Linked DNA regions of Homo sapiens. The protein of the gene in region 1 interacts with the protein of each later gene in a biochemical or structural test. Each region holds a gene or a part of one and is shown on either strand. Other genes may lie near its edges.

Evidence for each region.
Region 2: the proteins of ZAP70 (region 1) and DBNL form a complex in vitro, tested with the Homo sapiens proteins (one study listed by BioGRID).
Region 3: the proteins of ZAP70 (region 1) and PELI1 form a complex in vitro, tested with the Homo sapiens proteins (one study listed by BioGRID).

Annotation. Positions count from the first base shown.
Region 1 is NC_000002.12:97,716,507-97,723,613, reverse strand, and holds part of ZAP70 (tyrosine-protein kinase ZAP-70), read right to left. Parts: intron 1-7,107. UniProt on the Homo sapiens protein: Tyrosine kinase that plays an essential role in regulation of the adaptive immune response. Regulates motility, adhesion and cytokine expression of mature T-cells, as well as thymocyte development.
Region 2 is NC_000007.14:44,054,671-44,061,777, reverse strand, and holds part of DBNL (drebrin-like protein), read right to left. Parts: intron 5,022-7,107; coding exon 4,875-5,021; intron 3,997-4,874; coding exon 3,919-3,996; intron 3,650-3,918; coding exon 3,498-3,649; intron 3,350-3,497; coding exon of another isoform or gene 3,347-3,349; coding exon 3,298-3,346; intron 2,901-3,297; coding exon of another isoform or gene 2,877-2,900; coding exon 2,795-2,876; intron 2,425-2,794; coding exon 2,329-2,424; intron 2,236-2,328; coding exon 2,120-2,235; intron 1,731-2,119; coding exon 1,625-1,730; intron 1,002-1,624; coding exon 862-1,001; 3' UTR 1-861. UniProt on the Homo sapiens protein: Adapter protein that binds F-actin and DNM1, and thereby plays a role in receptor-mediated endocytosis.
Region 3 is NC_000002.12:64,092,365-64,099,471, forward strand, and holds the end of PELI1 (E3 ubiquitin-protein ligase pellino homolog 1), read right to left. Parts: intron 4,914-7,107; exon of another isoform or gene 4,698-4,913; intron 4,247-4,697; coding exon 4,049-4,246; intron 3,950-4,048; coding exon 3,761-3,949; intron 2,905-3,760; coding exon 2,338-2,904; 3' UTR 288-2,337; downstream 1-287. UniProt on the Homo sapiens protein: E3 ubiquitin ligase catalyzing the covalent attachment of ubiquitin moieties onto substrate proteins. Involved in the TLR and IL-1 signaling pathways via interaction with the complex containing IRAK kinases and TRAF6.

The DNA.
Region 1 (7,107 bases):
GCCGTGAGATAAACTGAGAAAGAAACAAAAATAATAATTACAGATTGAGGTCAGCATTACAAAGGAAATAAGTGGAGTGACATTAAGAGAGAGAAGAGGTGGCTCTAGCTAGGATGGTCACCTTCTCCAAGGAGCTAGCATTTGAAGGGAGAGCTGAAGGAGGAGGAGCCAACTTTTCAAAAAGCGCGCGGGACAGCGCATCAGGCAGAGAGGACTGCATGCGCAGAGGCCCTGAGGCCGCACCCAGCTTTGCTCACCCAAGGGCCCTACCCCTCAGCCTCCCTTGTCCCTTCCGCTGACCCTTTCCCCTCGGCCTTAGCAGGCACCCCTCGCCCTGCCCTCTGCCTTCCTTGGCAAGTTTCTACAGAGCATACGCTAATTGGAATATCCATCCCTAGGGGACTGGTTAAATGCATTAGGGTTTAATCTCAAAGTGAACTCTGATACAGCTATTAAACAAAACGTGTGATTGAGGGGAGGAGGAATTAAGGCTATTTAGACAGATGGATATCTGGTAAGGCAGATAACTTAAAATTGCCTGCCCTCAACTTTCTGGGGTGATGGTGACGTCCTGTATATTCACAGGGCTTGGGTTATGCAAGTGTCTGATTTTCCGAAAACTAAGAGAATGTACACTTAAGATGTGTTCATTCCATTGTATTTGCCCTCCCTCAATTAAAAAAGAAACATAAAATATTGAACCCTAGGTAACGATCTGCTTGCAGAAATGTTTAGGAGTGATGGGAACTGAGGACTGTAATCTAATTTGAGAGCATCCCAAAAATAACACTGACCGATGGACGAACAGAGCGAGAGGGATGGATAAAAGGATAGACAGCCAGATAGACACAGTTGATTTCTGTCATTCTCTGCAGTTCTATAAAGTCAACGAAAACACTGAATTAGCAATATAGAACTATCCCTCCTAGGGGAAATACAGAGTTAGGTTCCTAGGAAACTGTTTACATTTTCATCAACTGATCAAGACATAACCTTGTTTTTTTGTGAGTTTCTGTTTAAAGGCACCTTATTTAATAGACATGGTTGATTCACTAACATTGAACTCTTAGCCAACAGCACTATAACTATAAGCTTATCTGACATGTTTTCTCCATAAGGCACATACAGCATTCTTGCCCTTAGGAATGCTAGATAGCATTTCAGCACTATGGTTGGGGGCCATGTCAACCACTGAAATCACCAACAAAAAGCACAAACATTCAAAATATGTGAGGCCGAGTGCAACGGCTCATGCCTGTCATCCAGCACTTTGGGAGGCCAAGGCGGGTGGATCACTTGAGACCAGCAGTTCGAGACCAGCCTGGCTAACATGGTGAAACCCCGTCTCCACCATAAATACAAAAAATTAGCCAGAGGTGGTGGCGGGCACCTGTAATCCCAGCTACTTGGGAGGCTGAGGCAGGAGAACCTCGTGAACCCAAGAGGCGGAGATTCCATTGAGCCGAGATCAGGCCACTGCACTCCAGCCTGGGCAACAAGCGCGAAACTCTGTCTTTAAAAAGATAAAATAGGCCGAGCGTGGTGGCTCACGCCTGTAATCCCAGCACTTTGGGAGGCCAAGGCAGGTGGATCACAAGGTCAGGCATTCGAGACCATCTTGGCCAACACAGTGAAACCCCGTCTCTACTAAAAATACAAAAAATTAGCCGGGCATGGTGGCAGGTGCCTGTAATTCCAGCTACTCGGGAGGCTGAAGCAGAATTGCTTGAACCTGGGAGGCGGAGGTTGCAGTGAGCTGAGATCGCGCCACTGCCACTGCACTCCAGCTGGGGCGACAGTGCGAGACAGCAATCTCAAAAAAAAAAAAGATAAAATAAAAAAACAAAATATGTGGCACCACCAAATAGAACATGAAAAAGATTGGCCGGCTGCGGTGGCTCACGCCTCTAATCCAGCATTATGGGAGGCCGAGGCGGGTGGATCACAAGGTCAGGAGACCAAGACCATCCTGGCTAACACAGTGAAACCCTGTCTCTACTAAAAATACAAAAAAAAAAAAAAAAAAAAAAAAATCAGCCAGCCATGGTGGCGGGCGCCTGTAGTCCCAGCTACTCGGGAGGCCAAGGCAGAAGAATGACATGAACCCAGGAGGCAGAGCTTGCAGTGAGCTGAGGTCACGCCATTGCACTCCAGCCTGGGCGACAGAGTGAGACTCTGTCTCAAAAAAAAAGAACATGAAAAAGACACTTATCTGCAGCATGAGAGTGTTTGCCTTGTGCAGCCTCGGTGGGAAAATGTGTATCGAGTGATTCATATTTTTGCCACTCTGTATGTCTGAGAATGACCACAAAAGTGCCATGTTGGTTTTAGGGTTTCAGATAAATTTAACAAGTAGGCAAACTCACAAATAAGAACTCCGCAGTGTTGATCAACTGTATGTGATAAAGCAATTATAGCAAATCATAAACTGGAGAATCTAGCAGGTGAGTTATTGGTGTACAGTTAATTCTTTCTATTTTCTGCATATTTGTAAGTTTTCATAGAATGTTGGGAAAAAATACCTCTCCATAGCGGTTCTGAGTTGTTTCTCTACTAACATAGGCCCAGCAAGGCTACTCAGGCATAAGTTTGCATTGGAGAATTGACTTTGAGTGCCCTTCTTAGTTATGCAAATGCAACCAAGGGGTAAAATGAATGCTTTTGTGAAAGCTCCCTCTGCCCTGGGTGTCCAGAGATGGGCTCTGGAGCTGAAAGGAAGGTACTGGAATGGGAATCAGGTGAAGTCTGGGTCAGAGTAGCTAGAGGAGGGGCCAGGATCTGCACTGTAACCCGATTGATTGTGACAGTGAGGTTGGGAGGGCCAAGCTTGAGGGGGGTCCTGGATGTCCCAACAGTTACAGACAGGTGGGTGTTCCAGAGATTCATAAGGGACTGCATTTGTGGCTCCACCTGGAGAAAAAGGTCACCATTCCACAAGAGTGTTTTTAAAAAGTCATGAAGCGGCTGGGCGAAGTGGCTCACGCTTGTAATCCCAGCACTTTGGGAGATCAAGGCGGGTGGATCACATGGGGCCAGCAGTCTGAGACCAGCCTGGCCAACATGGTGAAACCCCGTCTCCATTAAGATACAAAAATTAATGGCTGGGCCCGGTGGCCCACACTTTGGGAGGCCGAGGCAGGCGGATCACCTAAAGTCAGGAGTTTGAGACTAGCCTGGCGAACATGGTGAAACCCCGTCTCTATTAAAAATACAAAAAAATTAGTCGGGCGTGGTGGTGGGCGCCTGTAGTCCCAGCTCCTCAGGAGGCTGAGGCAGGAGAATCGCTTGAACCCAGGAGGTGGAAGTTGCAGTGAGCCGAGATCGCACCACTTCACTCCAGCCTGGGCAACAGAGCAAAACTCCATCTCAAAACAAAACAAAACAAAACAAAACAAAAAAACCCATGAAGGCTCCTAGGTATTCACTCTAAAGAAATGGAAATTTACATTCACACAAAAACCTACACAGGAACATTTATAGCCGTACTAGCCACAGTTGCCAAAAATTAGGAATAACTTACATGTTTCCCAACAGATGAATAAGATACACTGTGGGACATGCCTACAGTGGAATTCTACTCCGCGGTAAGTGGAACAGCATACGGAGACACGCAGTTCCGCAAACGCATCGCAAAGGCCTCAGGCTGGATGAAAGAAACCAGGTTCCAAGGGCTACGAATTGTGTGATTCCACACACAACTATAGGGACGGAAAACGCACCAGAGGTTGCTGGGTGCTGGGGGCCGGAGAAGGAGTGACGACAGAGGGCAGGACGGAATTTGGGGGAATAGTCTGTATCTTGATTGATGTGGTGGTAGTCTCTGGGCTGTATGCATTTGTCAAATCTCAGAATTTTTCACTAAAATGATATAAAAATTTTATTGCATGTAAATTATACCCCAAATTTTTAATTAAGGGGGAAAGGAACTGGAAGATACAGACACAATGGACACTAAAAATGCTAATGAAAATAGGAAAAGTGATTAAGGGCTGTCTACACTCCTGTCCCTATGTCCTTGACTCCCAGCCTCTCAGCCAGACCTGGTCTGCGCCCCCCCCCCAGGCTGTTCTCCAGCACTGATAGCACCCCTGGCAGTCTGTAGGCACCAGACAAGCACTCTGTGACCTCCTCAATCCTGGGCCCCCTGAATGGCCGACACCTATGACTCCTCCCTCCTGCTTGAGCCCCACAGACCTCTCTGGTCCTTCACAAACTCCCTGGCTTGCCTCTGCCCTCTGACCATCCTGCTCACTCTCCTTCCCCCACCCCCGTCCCCTTACTTGGGTCATCCTGTCAGTAGCTGTACATGCTGCCACACCCACCTCTCCCAGAGCCCAGATCTCTCGCCCGACTGAGGTCGGTTGGTGCTGGCATCATCTCCTTTGATCTCCACCAACTGTTTCCATTAATACAACCAACCTAAGATCCAGATGGCATGCTCATGCTGCCTGTGGCTGGCTGAACCTCACAGTCTATTTCCACAGAGCTGAGCCCCAGAGTCTGCAAGTTGCTCCTTGGCAATTCTTCCCCAAGGCCTCCCTTGCTCAAGACCCTAATGGCTACTGCATTGGATCTCCCCAGCCCTCTGCCCCAGCTGAGCTGTGCTACTTGCCTTCCTTCAAATGGATGTTCATACTTTCATCCACACAGCACCCTCCACCTAGTGCACCCTTCCCTCTCCCCTCCATCTTCTCCAACCCAGCCAGCCCATCCTTGAAGACTCATGGAGCCACTCCCATAAAGCATGAGGATGCAGGATGAGGCAGAAAACTGAGGGCTTGTCCAAGGACCATGGGTGCAGAGTAGCAAAGCTGGTCTCTGGGGCAGGAAGCTGTGGCAGGAAACTGTCGCCAACACAGTTTGAGAAGCTCCTCCCCACGTGGCCGCAGGTGCAGCCTGGGTAGCTAGAAGTGGGTTAGGGCAGAAGAGGAGATGAGGGAGGCTCAGTGCCCAGCCCAGGGCTGCCATCCATGACCCGAGGCTAAGGAGTCCCAGAGGCAGGCTCTCTTCCTGTGCATCTCGGCTGCGTCCCAGCTTCCCTGTCCCACTGCCCACAAGGACAACGGTAATCACAAGCACCACCCCACACACACAGGTCGGGTGGTGGGCGCCTCCTCTTCCACCCCTGGGGCCTTTCTGGACTGTCCTCACTAGTAAAACATGGGGCCCAAGTTCCCAGGGACCCCATGGCCAGAGATGCTGGGGAGGCCAGAGAAGGTGGGCAGAGGTGGCAGAGATGAAAAGTCCGGGGGCAAGAGGTGGGAGCATTTGCCACGCAGCGGCTAGCCGGAGTGTCTGCTGTCAGTGAGCTGCACCGATCTAGAGCTCCCCGGGGTGACCCCAGACCCCAGGCAGGGGATCAAATGTTTCTGTTCTCAGCTGTGTCCCTGCAGACTCGTGGCCCTCCCAGAAGACACACCCACCATGAGACCCACCCCAGCCCTCGACCTGCCTGGGCCATCCCGACGGACAGGACTTGGGTTAGGAGCCGCGTCCCTCAGTCCCCAGTGAGCCTGTTCATTCCCCAAGCCTGGCCTATGGTTCTCCCTAGGCTGACCCCAGTCAGCTTCCTCTTGAGCTCACAGTTCAGAGATCCTAGTTTGGCCTTCCCAGAACTTACAGCCCCTGGATCACAGCACAGAGATCACAGCAGAGCAGCCACGGGGCACCTGCCCCACACTCACAGCCCAGGCCCTGGGAGGATGATGGGAGGAAGCCTTGGAGCCTGGTCAGAAGGACCTGCCTGGAATCCCACCATTCACCCAGCCTCCCTGGGTAAAGGCAGTGCTAGATTACAGCTGTTCCAGAGAGATCAGATTCCCCAAACATGCTTCAAAGGAAAAAAGAGTCAAGGGGTCAAATACAGTTTCAAATGCTGTGAAAAGCACATTAAAGGCTCCGAGAAGACCACATGGAAGGACCTCTTTCAGCGTCACTTAATTCCCACACCTATTCAGCAAAGCCTTGAAGGTCTACTGTTTCACAGAACATTCCCTGGGCATCAGAAGCCCCCATTACATGCCCATCGTCAGAGCAGAGGTATCACACCAAAGCCACTGGACCTGGTGGGAGCGGGCAGGAGCAGCACAAGCTCCACATGTCCCCCCAGCCAGAGGCTCCACGTGTCCCCCCAGCCAGAGGCTCAGAGGCTCCTCGTGTCCCCCCAGCCAGAGGCTCCACATGTCACCCCAGCCAGAGGCTCAGAGGCTCCGCATGTCCCCCCAGCCAGAGGCTCCGCATGTCTCCCCAGCCAGAGGCTCCGCATGTCCCCCCAGCCAGAGGCTTGACATGTCCCCATCCAAGGCTCTGCAGGAGCAGGGCCCCAGCCCCTCACCGCCCCACCTCCTCCTACTGCCCCCCCACCACCCTGTTCCCACTCCAGCTCCTGGCTCTCTCTCTCTGAACCCCTAGTCCTCACCTGAGACCCTAAGTCCCTCTGAAGCCATGTTCCCTGCTCCTTAATCCCCCAGCTGTGCTCGGGCCGCCTGTGCCCACCAACAGAGGCAGCATAGGCACTGGTCGTCAGCACACGCCAGCTTGGTGACGCCATGAGCCACACAGCCGCAGTTAGCCATGGCTGCAGGCTCCTCCTTCATATGTCTTTCCTGACTGCAGGGATTGGATTCAAATCATGGAATCGTGGACCCACCACATGGTCACAGTGCAGCCTCAGCAGCGAGTGAAGCTCGCCAGACCTCCTCCGGAAAGCAGGGCCAGTGAAGGTGTCCAGCACTGGGGCTGCAGGGACTCCCTGGGGTGAGACTTGCTGGCCCCCGTCATGCCATCACATCCTCTTCTCTGCTTGAAGCCCTCTAGGCTCCCACCTCACTCGGGGTGAAAATGCAAGTCCTCAGGGTGGCCCCCAAGGCCCTTCATGATGCCCATCACCACCCCCCGCCACTCACTCCCCTCCAGCCACACGGGCCTCCTCATGTTATTCGTTCAGGTCCCTCGGACAAACCAGGCATGGTGCAGCCTCAGGGCCTTTGTACTGTCTGTTCCCTCTGCCTGGAGACTCTTCCTCCAACACCTTCCACTTTATTCAGGTCTCTGCCTAAGTCACCTCCTCCAGGAGGCCTTCCCTGACCTCCCTCTCCAAAATAGCCT
Region 2 (7,107 bases), on another chromosome or scaffold:
GAGCATTCAGGCTACAGCAGGACAGGTGAGAGCTGCGAGCCTGTGTAGACCAAACTGGGAATTCGTGGTCCAAAAGCATATTTGTTCTTCAGAGACACGGATGAGCTGGGACAGAAAATAGGGGAAGACAACAGGCCAAGGCCACTCTGTGTTACTTTTCCTGAAGTCAGAATCAGTTGAGGCACACACTGGGGCCTGCAGGCATCGAGTGAGCCGCGTGGAGGAACATGTTGTGTCTGCCGTTTTTGAATACCCAGGGTGGGAGCTTGGCCATCTGCATCCCCACTTCCCATAGCCCAGGCAGAGGGACAGAGAAATGGAGTGGGGAGCACAGAGCAGGCTCCAACAAGACAAATTCCCTGCTGCCAAACCACCATGATCCACTCTGACTTTGGTCACAAACTCTGCTAAAAACAATTCTCTACGTTCACTGTTCCCAAGGGTCATTCTAAACAGTGGTGGCCACCACCCCTTAGAAGCAAGAGAAAAAGAAAAAAGGCAAATAAATGCAGAAGGCAGCCAGAGCCTCCCAGATGCCCCTGCTCAGGACCCTTCCCCGCAGCTTGGCAGTGGCCACTCAGGGCTTGGCCACAGGCAGGGCTTGGCTCAGTATCCTGTCAGGGGCAAGAGCCAAGCTGTCTGGGAGGGTCGGGGGATGCAGGAAGGATGTGTGGGAATCACCAGGCCATTGCTGCATTTGGGGTGACAGGCTGAGTCTGCCAAGCCGGAGGGAGCCCTGAGGCCTCATCCTCACTGGGGGTCCTATTCCTGGAAGAGTGCTGAATGTCAACTCCCAGGCCTCCTCTTCCAGCAATAAGGAAGCCATGTCTGAGAGGGGAAGGGCAAGATGTGCCCTCAGCCTCACTCAATGAGCTCCACGTAGTTGGCAGGGAACATGCCAAAATGGCCATCCGGCCCATAGCCACGCCACCAGCCTTCGTCGATCACCTCGATGCCCGTGATGAGGTTCTCGGGGTCAAAGGAGATCTCTGTGTCGTCGGCTGCAAAGAGGATGAGCCCAGATGCATATCAGGGGCTCCCTCCCACATCCCACCTGCTCGGGCAGCCCACGGCAGCCCCACACTGCTGCAGCACACCTCGCTGCAGCTCTGGTTCCTCCTCAGAAATATCCCTGCCACCCTGCTAAGCCTTGGCCAACACTGCACCCTGTCCCAATGCGGCTCCAGTGACCACACCCCCAGGGCATACCCTCCTACAGAGCATTCCCAAAAAAGGCTAGAGTAGACACCAGCCTGCTCCGTAGGGGGCCTCCACCCCATTCTCCAAGGCCTCCACCCAGGGACGCCTGGTGAACCAGCATCCAGGCCTGGCCCACCTCCCTGCTCAGAGTCCATGTTCTGTGACAAGGGTGGCAACTGGGATTCACATCAGCGGCCAGCAAATAGCTAATGAGGAACATGTAGGGAGGCCTGGGCTGTGCAGAACACTCTAGTGCCACAGTCACCCCCACTCCAGAGGTGCTTCTACCCCTAAACGCACCGCCCACCCTCCTGTCTTCTCTTCCTGATACCCCCTGGTGCCATCTTCCCATAAAACCCCAGACCCTCTTGTCTCCTAACCTCAGGACCCTGTGGTCTGTGCCAGCCAGGCCAGGGCACCTTACCTGCCTGGTAGTCGTACAGGGCACGGGCACAGAGCCCTTGCCCACTGAGCCCCTGGCCCTGAATGTGGTGGTCAATGTGCTCAGAGCCAGCACCTTGCTGCTGCACCTGCCCAGGGATGACAAAGGTGTTACCCCAGACTCAGCCCTTACACACAATCGCTGCTCTGCCCCACATGGCTCAGGTCAAGCTGGGAGTACGCAGAGGGCAAGCAGTCTACAGGCTCGGGGGCTGGGCTGCTGCTGTCCCCGCCCTACCAGAGTACAGAAGCCACAGGACAGTGCATAAATCCCTCAGCCATAGGCTGCAAGGTCCTCTTCCCACCCAGCACCTCCTATAGAGTGGGGCGTGCCCTGACAATTTATAACACAGGGCTGCTCCAAAAATGCATGTGCTTTAAAACCTGTTGCATGCCCCCAGAAAACTCAGGCGGCCCGTGATAAGTGTTCCTGAGTATGCAGCCCCTTCCTGGCCCCAGCCCCAGTGTAGGAACCCACCAGTGGGGGCTGCTCGTAGAAGGTCTCCTGCTCTGGAGGTTCCTCATACACAGCCTCCTCTTCTGCCTGCACCAGACATGGAGGAGTGCTGGGCGCCGGCTCCTCAGCAGGGAGATCTGCACCAGGGAACACAGCAGGTTCTCACTCCCACACATCCCCCTTCTCCACTGCTGTCCCCCAGGGTCCCCATGGGGTGACAAGCGCCTTGCCTGCCCTGGGCCTTGAGATGGCAGCAGCTGGCTCTCTGCCAAAGTGGGTCTCTGGTTGGGTGAGCTGCTTCTGCAGGAAGGGGCTCCTCAGCTTGCCTGCAAACCCGGGTAAATATATACATCACTTCAGAAACACCACCACACACCCACGCACCCCACAGCACCCTCCACCCTGGTGTGCTCGAGGCAGTCTCATGGGGCTTGCTCTTGCTAGTGCAGGAACAGAGGCCCCAGGGCCATGTGCTATGTGGTGACGTGGTAGACAGCGCAGCCCAATATCTTTTGGAGGCCAAACTGGTGACCAGTGTGGTCACTGATGAGGTCAATGGCCCCAGGTGTCCCTTCTCCTCACTCACTCACCCGTCACCGATATATCTGTCACTAGCCTTGGGGGAGCCCACATAGGACCCCAGGCTCCCCCTCAGCCTGCTGCTGCCTCATGGCCAGGCCCAAAGGGAGAGCTCACCAGGCTGAGGACTGGAGATGGAGGTGGTGGACATGGCCCTCTCCTTCTGCTTGAAAATCTCCCTCGGGTGCACGGCAGACTCCTGGAGGGAAGCACATGTTGACCCCTGCAGTGGGCAAAACCTTCACCACCTCTCCCCAGATCACAGCCCCTCCAGCTGTCGGCCCAGTAGCCCCTCAAAGGTGAGTGTGGGGCCAGGAGGCAAAACATGTTCTCAGGAGAGAAGTCATTTAAAAATAAAAAGTAACGTTAAAAAAGGAAGTAAAACACAGAAGCCAAGGGGCTCCCAGGGCCTCCCCCAGGACCAGGTGTGGTCCAAGCCCGACGCTTCCGCCTTTGGCTTTCCTCTCTACTGCCACCTCTTGAGGTGCCCAGATTCCAACCTGCCCCAGCTGACTGCAGGGCAGCCTCTGCCCAGGTCTGGGCTGGGCCCTCAATCCGAGATCAGGGACTTCTGCGTGTGGCCAGGACAGGTCCAAACAAGTAGAGCACCCCCATCTTACCTGCTCATTTCGGTTCCTTGAAACCACTTCTTGCTGCTGCTCCCACGTCCTGCTGGGAAGGGCCGGGTGGGGCACAGCTGAGGCACAGTCACAGCTTCTCATGCCACACCCCTTAGTCCTCCTCGCCTCCATGGGATGGAGCAGGTGCCCAGCAATGCCTCAGGGTGGGTCCCCCAGGCCAGCCTCCACCTCTGGCTCACCTCTGGGGGCTGGCCTCGCCACCCTGCTCCTGATAGCGCTGCTCCCGGCGTGCAGCCTCACGCAGCTCACGCTCCCGGCGCTCCTGCTCCAGCTGCCGCTGTGCCTCCTCGGCCCGCCGCTTTTCCTCCAGCCGACGGTTCTCCTCCTCCTTCTGCAGGGAGAGCCACTGCCCGCTCAGCCCTATGCTGCCACTTCAGCCTAATCCCCTGCCCAGGACTGAGTTTTAGGCACATGGCCAAAGACGGGCACCAGAGCCAGTCGATCATTAGCCTTGTGGCTTAACTTACCCGAGCCTCAGTGTGACCATCTGTAATGGGCACCAAGGAGAGTGGATGCTGCATGAGCTCACTTGTGAGGAAAGATGAGCCACAGCAAGCAGAACACTCCCACGTGCCCAGCATGCCCCGGGGCAGCACTCACCTCTGCTTTGGCCCAGAAGCTGTCTTTACCAACCCTTTTAATCTCAGACACGGCATTGGTCTTCTGGTACACAGAGCCCTGTAGGGGACAGCACTCATTAGAGACCTGGACCCAGGTGGAAGGCCAGGCCCACAGGCACCAAAGGAGAGAATACGCTAAACTTGCGACAGCACAGGTGAGTGCTGCTAGGACTGGACCCAGCAGAGGCAGCAGAGCACTGCCCAGTGACCCTCAAGGAGACACACACCAAGATGACCTGAAAGAAGCCCAGGACACTGCCCCAAGGGGGATGCTCAATCCCAGACAACACTAGAGGGGTCTCTGGTGGTCTCTCGCCCTCATGGATGGGGGCCAGGGCAAGAAAGGCCCCCATACCCCACCTGCAGACTCCTAGACATTGGGCAGTTCTGAGGCAGGCCTCTGACCAGGGGCACTCAGACAGCTGACTACCACAAGAGCATCCAAGGAATCACGTCCAACCACACGCATGCGGACGCAGCTCCCAGCCATCAGCTCCACACAGCACTGGGGCCACAGGCCCACAGGTATCTCCCGTGACTCCAAGGGGCCTGCTCTGGTTTCAGGCTCCGCCTTGATGCCTCCTTTAGTTCCTCCACGGTGGCTACCTCCAGGGGCAGCCCAAGATGTTCCAGTGCCATGACCTTGAGGGCAGCCAGACTATCATAGCCATGCATGCTGCAGAGCCTCCACTCTGACCACACAGGCTGGGCTCCAGAGGAAGGCTCCAGAACAGCTAGTCCAACCCCTAGGCAAGGTCAGAGGGCTATTCCTGCTCATCTGGTCAGTGGGCAATCACCACAGCTCAGGGGTTACCATCTGCAGAAACTAAGCAGGCATGGGCCCAGCCAGCCCGGGTGCTGGGAAGTGCATATTCCTGGCCCCCTGCCTCAGGCCCTGAGCAACAAAAGGGCTGGCGATGGGCAAGCAGCACTCACCACTGGGGCCTGGGGTCCCACGTCCTGGAAGCGGCCACTCTCCTTGTGAAAGCTGTAGTTGGCACCTGAAGCCTTGGCCACCTTCTCCATGATGCACTCAGGCTCCACATCCTCCTCGGCCCGTGCGTTGATGGTCACATGGGCCCCCTGCAGCAGGAGCAGCACTTGAAAGAAGGGCTTTGCAAGCCCAGGAGATGGGCCAAACTCCTGTCAGTCCATACAGCACGGGCCACTACTATACCACACAGGACTGGAATCAGGAAACTAGAAGGCACCTGTCTGGCTGCTGAAAACTGAGGCACGAGTTCCCCTCAAGGGCTCAAACAAACCAACTTGGAGCAAACCCCTCATTCTTGTCCCAGTTCACGTGAGACCCTTGACCTCCACTGTGCTATCCAGTGGTTCCTTCTGTAGCTGTTCCCTGCTGTGTATCAATAGACAGCCCAGGCATAATTTGCATCAAAGGCCTTCCTTCTAATCAATGAAAACTAATTTTAAATGCCATCTGGAAGCCACAAAAGACCCTGAATAGCTAAAGCAATCTGAAGCAAAAAGTACAAAGCTGGAGGCTTCATGCTACCTGATTTCAAATTAAACTACAAAACTACAGTAAGCAAAACAGCATGGTACAGGCATAAACACAGACACAACAATGGAAACTAACAGAGCACTCACACACACAGCCAACTCATTTTTAACAAAGGTGACAGGAACATACACTGGGGAAAGGACGGTCTCCTTCATAAACAGGGCTAGGAAAATTGGATATCCATATGCAGAAGAATGAAACTAAATCTTCATCTTTTACCATATTAAAAAAAAACTCAAAATGGGTTAAAAAGACTTAAATGTAAGACCTGAAACTATGAAACTACTCAAAGAAAACACTGGGTAGATGCCCCTGGACATTGATCTGGGCAAAGATTTTTTTTGGGTTAAGACCTCAAAAGCCCAGGCAACAAAAGCAAAAATCAACCAATTGGACTACATCAAGCTAAAAGGCTTCTGCACAGCAAATGAAACAATCAACAAAGTAAACAGACAACCTACAGAATGGGAGAAAATATCTTCAAACTATCCATCTGACAAGGAATTAGTGACCAGAATATATAAGGAACTCAAACAACTCAGTAGCAAAAAAATAATAATCTGATTTTAAAATGGGCAAAAGACCTTAACAGATATTTCTCGAAAGATGATATACGCATGGCTAACTACATACAAAAAAATGCTCAACATCACTAACCATCATCAGGGAAATGCAAACCAAAACCATAACGGGCTATCATCTCACCACAGTTAGAATGGCTATTATAAAAAACATAAAAAATAAATGCTAGCAAGGATGTGGAGAAAGGGAAATTCTTATACACTGTTGGTAGGAATGTAAAGTAGTACAGCCATTATAAAAACAGTATGGTTTTTTGGGTTTTTTTCTGAGACAGAGTCTTACTCTGTTGCCCAGGCTGGAGTGCAGTGGACAATCTCGGCTCACTGCAACCTCCACCTCCCAGGTTCAAGAGATTCTCTGCCTCAGCTTCCTGAGTAGCTGGGATTACAGGTGCCCGCCACCACACCTGGCTAATTGTTGTATTTTTTTAGTAGAGACGGGGTTTCACCATGTTGGCCAGGCTGGTCTTGAACTCCTGACCTCAGGTAATCTGTTCACCTTGGCCTCCCAAACTGCTGGGATTACAGGCGTGAGCCATCGCGCCTAGACAACAGTATGGTTTTTAAAACAGTATTTTAGTCCTACTAAAAGCAGAACTACCATATGATCTAGCAATCCAGCTGCTGGGGATATATCCAACTCTGAAGTTCAGCGCTATTAACAATAGCCAAGATACGGAATCAACCAAAACGTCCATCAATGGATGAAAGGGTAAAGAAAATTTAGTATATAAACATGAGGGAATATTATTCAGCCATAAAACAGAATGGCATCCTGTCATTTGCAGCAACATGGATGGAACTGGAGGTCATGATGTTAAGGGAAATAAGCCAGGCACAGAAGACAAGTATTGCATGTTCTCACTCATGTGGGAGCTAAAAAAGTGGGTATCATGGAGGGAGAGAGTAGAATGCTGGTTACCAGGGGTTGGGAAGGGCATGGGGGAGAGAAAATGAAGAGAAGTTGCTTAACAGGTACAAAAGTACAGTTAAATAGAAGGAATAAATTCTAGTATTCAATAGTACAGAAGGGAAATTATAGTTAACAATAATTTTGTGTATT
Region 3 (7,107 bases), about 34 Mb from region 1:
TAAGTAAAAGTGTTCTATTAGGCCATGACAAAATAACAGTTCTGCTTGAACAGCAAACACCCAACTGATCATTTAAATTGCCTGAATTTTTAAAACTTGAATTTGATAGAAAATGAGCCAGGTTTTTCCCTGTTAGAAGAGATTGTTTTTACCTGTTAGAAGAAAATGCAGGCAACTTTGGGAAGGACGTGCAACTTTTATGGTTACGAAGCCACTATTTAAATAGTCTAACATGCAACTTACAGGTGCCAACTCCCTAGCAAGGCTTAACTTAGAAAAGGCCTCAATTATTCAACCACTAACAAAGTTCCTTTATTAGTAAGAGATGCTTTTAAAAAAGAACCAGATACTTTAAAGTGTTACATTAAATGCAAACTCTTCATCTATTTCAAATGAGTATTTTTGGAGTGTGGAATAGAGTTGTTCACAGTTTTCACTTCTGGTTTCTCATTCTCGATTATGCAAAAATGAACTCACAGAGACGAATTCAATTATGTATTTTGAAAAGTATTTACTTAGTTTAAATAAATTAATTGCAAATAAAAATTAAGCTACAATATATAGCCTGAATAAAAATGACTAGAACAAATACAACACAGGACTTGCTTTCTTGCATTAGTCACAAAGCATGTGACAATCTAGAAAACTTCAAAATCAATTACATTTCTTTGAAAAAGGGGTAACAGCAGTTACTGATACATCACAACTAATAAACTTATAATACAAGTTTCCTGACATGCATTTCCTGAGTGAACCCAAATGATCATTTTTTAAAACAAGGAAGTTTCGACAGTTGAAGTAAAATAAAATAATTCATGGCTTCTAAGCAACAAGTTTTGTTTTTTAAAAACCAAAAGAAAATTCAGAACAGTTTTGTAATAGGATAAATTAAAGGTATGCTACCACATATAAAACTTTGCTACAGTCAGTTAAGTATTATACAACTTTTCAAACTAAAGGAAAACAAATCAAAATATTAAAAGAAGATACTGTCTAATCTAAAAGTGTACTGGTTTCTACAAGTGTCAAAAAAAGATTTGATGTAGTGCAACTGTCTATACTTGTGGTGCCTTTGAAAAAAGGGTGGGAAGGAGGGGAGAGAAGAAACTTTTCTTGCTTCTGGAAGCAAAAGACATATTGGAATTAGAGAATAAACAGACCATGCAGTGCGTCACTCCACGCTGCAGTCATTGGTGCTCATCTGCCAACCAAACATTTCCTTAAGTCTCACTGTGGCAATCTCCTTAGGATTCAAACCCAGAGTTAAGGCTGGTCTGCTAAAAACGGGGGCACTATTGTCATTCAACCCTTTAGATCTCTAGATTTCCTAATGCCCGAATAAGGCCAAATACAGAATAATTAATTAAGCATTTCTTTTTCCAAAAGCAAATCAAGTCACTCTCCTTTCTTGCTAATTTATACTTTTTCTTATGGCAATGATTTTTTTCTAGAAACAGTGAACAGATGAACCACAGTTTATATCCAAAAAATAAACTTGCCAAATGCTGCTGATACTAAAAACAGATTAGTTATCATGGGAGAAAAATAGATAATCTAGATTAAATTGCATATCCAAAGGAGCATATAAAATGTTTCTTAGCATTAAGTTTTTGTTATAGTACTACGCTCGAGAGAAACATTAAGAAAAAATCTTTCCTGATTATCTTCAATGTTGTTAAAAACAAACACCTTTCACGCGGGTAATTAGTATGAATTTGGTCTTACAAATTACAAAGTATTCTAATTTACCAAATTCCATATTTAGATTGGGGTGGGGAGAGAGGCTCTCTCGTCCTTCTTCCTAACTTTGCAAATCCTTGAGCTAGGTTGCTCACTAAGCTACCATTCACACCAAGGGTGTGACACCATCGTTACCATGCTACTCTATCAAGAACATTCTAAGGTATTTTCTATAATAAAGATAAATAGAAAAAAGTTAATATACATGTCGCTGTATTTTACAATGTTTGCAACAAACTGTAAACTAACATAGTTTGAACCAACAGTACCCTCAGTTATACAAAACAATTTCAGCACTGAGGATAGGTGATTCAAAAACACTAAAAGGAAGGCATCAAATTAGACTATGTCTTTTTCTCCTCAAAATATATTTTCAAAACTCAGAATTCAGAAGACTGATACTTTCAGAAATTCCTTTGCTTGAGTTTCCCAGATTTTTGCTCAGAAATTGCTACTATTTATTATAAATGTTTTAAAAAATTCTTCATCTTAATGCAAATGACCAGAGCAGAAAAACTGTGACGTGGACAACAGGTTCGAAAACCCAACTCACTTAGCTTATAAATTTATAATGTAGTCCTGCAAGACAATGGTCTGTTAGTCTAGAGGTCCTTGAAAAATAAGTCTGATGTAGCCTTGTTCACCAGCCAACTGATGTGCACAAAAGGGACAGGCTGCATGAAAAGTATGAGTACCATGAGGAAGTGGGATCTGGGACCAATAGGCAGTTGTCTTTTCTGAACACACATGCCCACACGGGCTAAACGCATGGGTTGGAGGGCCGGCGTCCACATAAAATCCAGCTTCACATCCAAGCCACAGAGGAACATAGGGACCAACAGACCTACACATAGGACATTCACGATCTTTTCCATCACGTTCTTCTTTGTTTCCCCAGTTATGATAGCCATGTACATGGCCGCAGTTTAGATATACCCATGGTTGTTTTTCATCTACAACGTCTTTCCTCTTCATACTAGGAAATGCTAGTGTGTTGAACCCTACAGGGCACTGAGGTCGTGCTGCATTGATTTCCTGTCTTAAAGCTTCTAAATGCTTCACGGTAGGAGTGTGGGAAAGGCCTTCTGCAGTACGCCATAACAATGTTGCACCACAGAGGTCAATTAACGAGCCATCTTGTAACTGATTGGTTTCAATTTCCACCTAGAGGAGACAAGAGTTGAAAAACATATTCACCACTCTGTTTTGGATTTTTACATAAGTGTTTTGGTTTTAAGTACTCCTTACTCAAGAAATGAGGTTTCCTAGGATTTTCACTAAATATTCAAGAAACTGACAGTAGTTATGAAAAATGTTAAGTTTGAAAATCAAGGATAAAATATCAAACATTAACATATTTCTTTTTAGCCTTATGGTAAAGACAACTTATGATTAAAACATCTGGCTAATCAATAAGTCTAATATTTTTAATGAGGTAAATATGGTTTAAGATATACAGATGGCAACAGAAAAGATCAGAGGGAGTGCTGTTTAGTTTAAGAAAGCTTAGGTTTTAAAATATATTAACATGATATGACAGAAGAATGAACTTCCAGAGTTTACTAAAATGCTCTTGTTGCCCAGGCTGGAGTGCAATGGCGCAATCTTGGCTCACCGCAACCTCTGCCTGCCAGGTTCAAGCTATTCTCCTGCCTCAGCCTCCCGAGTAGCTGGGATTACAGGCATGCGCCACCATGCCTGGCTTATTTTGTATTTTTAGTAGAGACAGGGTTTCTCCATGTGGCTCAGGCTGGTCTCGAACTCCTGATCTCAGGTGATCCATCTGCCTCGGCCTTCCAAAGTGCTGGGATTACAGGTGTGAGCCACCGCGCCCGGCTACTAAACGAAATATTAAAGAGACTGTCCTCTAGTATAGAATTTGGTAGTCAGTGTTTGATAGACTTAGTATTCTGTGTTGGCAATAGATTTAAGAGTTTTCTGGAATGTATGTAATGCATTCAGTTCTACTCATCCTATGTGTTTATTGTAGCTAATTAAGAAAATACCATTCAGTATTTACCATTTTTCCTCTCTGCTGAGCCGATCTGGTTTCACGTAGGCTAAATACATTTCCACACACCGATATTTCTCTCCATATTCCAGGCTTGGAGTCTTCTGTGAACCCATTGCGTGGATGCATCACAAGAACACCATTAGTGGTCAAGCCATCCATCTGTCCATCTGATGTCTTCCATTTGGCAGCCTTCTCCTAGTAGAAATAATAGCAGTGAGCTTCCAACTTGTAACTTGTAACTTGGAATGAAAGCTAGTATAAAAGAAAGCATCATTTAGAAAAAAAGCTTTTTACCCCAAGAAAGATGTTTTTTGATGAGTCAAATCCTGCAGCATAAATCCGTGCTGTAAAGGGAGGATTCCGTTCACATATGATTCTGCAGGCAAATCTTGATATAGTGCTTTGTACTGACTGTGTATCAGAATTACTTTGACTTCCAGGAACCGTGTCAGTTACTACAAAATCAATGGGGCTTTCAGTCGACCGGCCAATCTGAGGGAAAAAAAAAAATACCTATAAACCCATTCAAAGAGCACAGTGGAAAATCCATTCAAGAAGGGCACAATAAGGAGAGAACATTAGGTCTCTGAAATTTCTAAAGTTGAAGTTTACCATACTTAACGCTGGGGGCATCTATACTCTTGAAAACTAATCAGTCAGACTGTCTCTGATGAAGTAATCACTTAGAGCATGGAATTAAATGAGAACTTACAATAATATACGAAACCCTTAGGGAATGAAGAATTCAGGAACGGCTGAGATTTCTAGATGGCTGCAGATTTTAATTTTAACCCTTTTGGATGGAAATATGTGTATCATGTAGTTTTTTTCTCTTTAGAGATATTTAAAGAGATATTCTACCTTATTTAACAGAATATAGTGAACATATATAAGTAAATCTTTTAGGATGACTGCAGAACATTACACTATAAATACCACTTACGTTAAGCTGAAATGCAGTGATGTCTTCAGGTGCTACAAGAGGTATACAAGGCTGCTGGTCCTTATGTCAAGGGCTTACACAGCCTTGCTTTGAGGTCTTATGTATACTTCATATATTTTCTTGTTTCTTTTCTGTCAGGTTGTCAGCTATCACTCCTTGTTTTTGGTCATGCTTGTTTCCAGCAACAAGCCCCTCTTTTAACTGGCTACTCTTACTCTGTTATGGGTTGAGAAATCAAATAACCTATTTCAGAGAAAAGTATTTCAAAAGGTTCTGGTGAGAGCCTAAGGGATCCTCTAGGGAGAATAGAAAAGGAATTTCACTACATCAACTTTGTGGCATTTATTTTATATATATACTCTTCCTGGTTCTTAGGGATATTTCAGAGAGACAAGGTTCCCAGATAAGAGTTCTGGATGAGTGAGGTGTCAGAGATTTAAAAATATCTTCAGAGGTACTAGCTAGTAAATAAGTTAATTTCATTTTGAAAGTTGAAAGAAAAAAGGAAATCAATGGGGAGATGACAAAAGTGACAAGTGTCACGGGGCTTTAAAGCAAACATTTGGAAATTATCAGTTCATGAATGTATTTGTTATAAAGTAGTACCATAAAATTGAAGAATGTGGGTACTGAGAAAAAATACTGACCCTCTACAAAGATAAAGACTCTTAAAAGTCATTCTTTACATATTTTAGCCTCAAGTTCCTCATATCGGCACACTTTCAGATAAACCTCTTTAGTGTTTTTGTCCAACTGTCAAGTATAAAGTCTTTTTATTTAGATTGGATAGTTTTAGAGGGAAACTAGTTAACAAATATAAGATTGGATATTCCTTTTCTTTATTCTTAAAAATAAAGATACCTTAAATGGCCTCAGATCTTTGAAACAAAAAATATTCCCCCAAATAAAAAGGCTCTTTAAAAGCTAAAAGATATAGGCCAAGGATTGAACTAATATTCAGAATCAACAGAAGTAGCACTTATTTGGAAAGAGACTGTTCCAGAGAGCTGACATTTCAACTGGGTCTTGGAAGAGAATATTTAAGACACTGAAGCAATATTTGTAATGACAATGAGAAGGAAGAAACTTAAGTATCTATAAAGAGAAAAAAACCACCATGAATGTGATCAGATGCCAAAATATGATTGTTAATAATTCTTCCCCTGCTATTATTAGCATTAAAAATACAGCTCTTTTGTTACTCTCCCTTACCCTCATGAGAAAACTCAATGGTTCCTTATAGCTTATCCAAAATTTGTAGTTTATTATTTCTGATAATAGTTAGAAACTGACTCAAGATTTGCCTCCCATCTACCAATCCAGCCGAATTTCCTGCTATTTGTGTATACAAGCTACAACAGCTTATTCGTCAATCTTTCACCACACTGTGTACTACTTCTTTGCTTCTTTGCCATCTCTTTTGCTAGAATGCTTTTCTACCGGTTGCTGGCAAAAATCCTACTTAACCTGATAAAAAGATCTACATGAAAAGGCACCAGTGTAAAGTCTTTTCTCCATCCTTCTTCAACACAATCAATGTGCTTAAGATTTACAGGGTCAGTACAGCACCTAGGCATGTAATCAGCTTGTAATGTCTCCCTTATGTACTTCATAGTGACAAACAAGGCATAGAGTTGGAGTTGGAATATCTGATGACTTGAACAATAAATGTTCTTGTTCAGTTTACAGGGTAGACAATCCTAGAATGTTTCCAGTACAATTCCTCAAAGACTGGCTAGTTTATCAAGGTAGTTTCTGATACATCACAGTCTTTTTGATGCAGAAATGTTTGGATTTTCCAAAGGTATAATACCTGTAGAAAGGGCATAATCAGTTTATGATACTGGGGAAAATTCTCTACTTTATGAAAAAGACAAAACCCAAACTGTTAAAACTTATTCAAGGGCCTTCATTAGATGGTGAAGACATTGTTTCAGAATTCAGGATGCCTGGTTTAATTTCAGTTTTGCCCCCAAGTAACTCTATCATCTTTAACTCACAAGATTTCAGTTAACCTCATCTACAAAAGATAAGCGGTAAACAAATAAATATAACGTACTTTCTGAAGCTAAAATTCTAGCCTGTGACCAAATATCTTGGAGATACACACACACACACACACACACACACACACACACACATATATATTTATCTATATTTTATTAAAGAGACGAAGTCTCACTATGTTGCCCAGGCTGGCCTCAAGCTATCCTCCCACCTCAGCCCCCTGAGTAACTGAGACTACAGGCCTAGTAGCATCTTGATTTTAAAAAAAAGCTAAGCTCATTCATTTTCACTGCTTGTCAGTGAAACAAAATGTGAAAAATCATCCTAAAGCTTTGTGTTCGGTTTTTCTTGGATCTAAACATTAATCTTCCTTAAAGATCTTATTTATTTTTGGTAAAAGTGA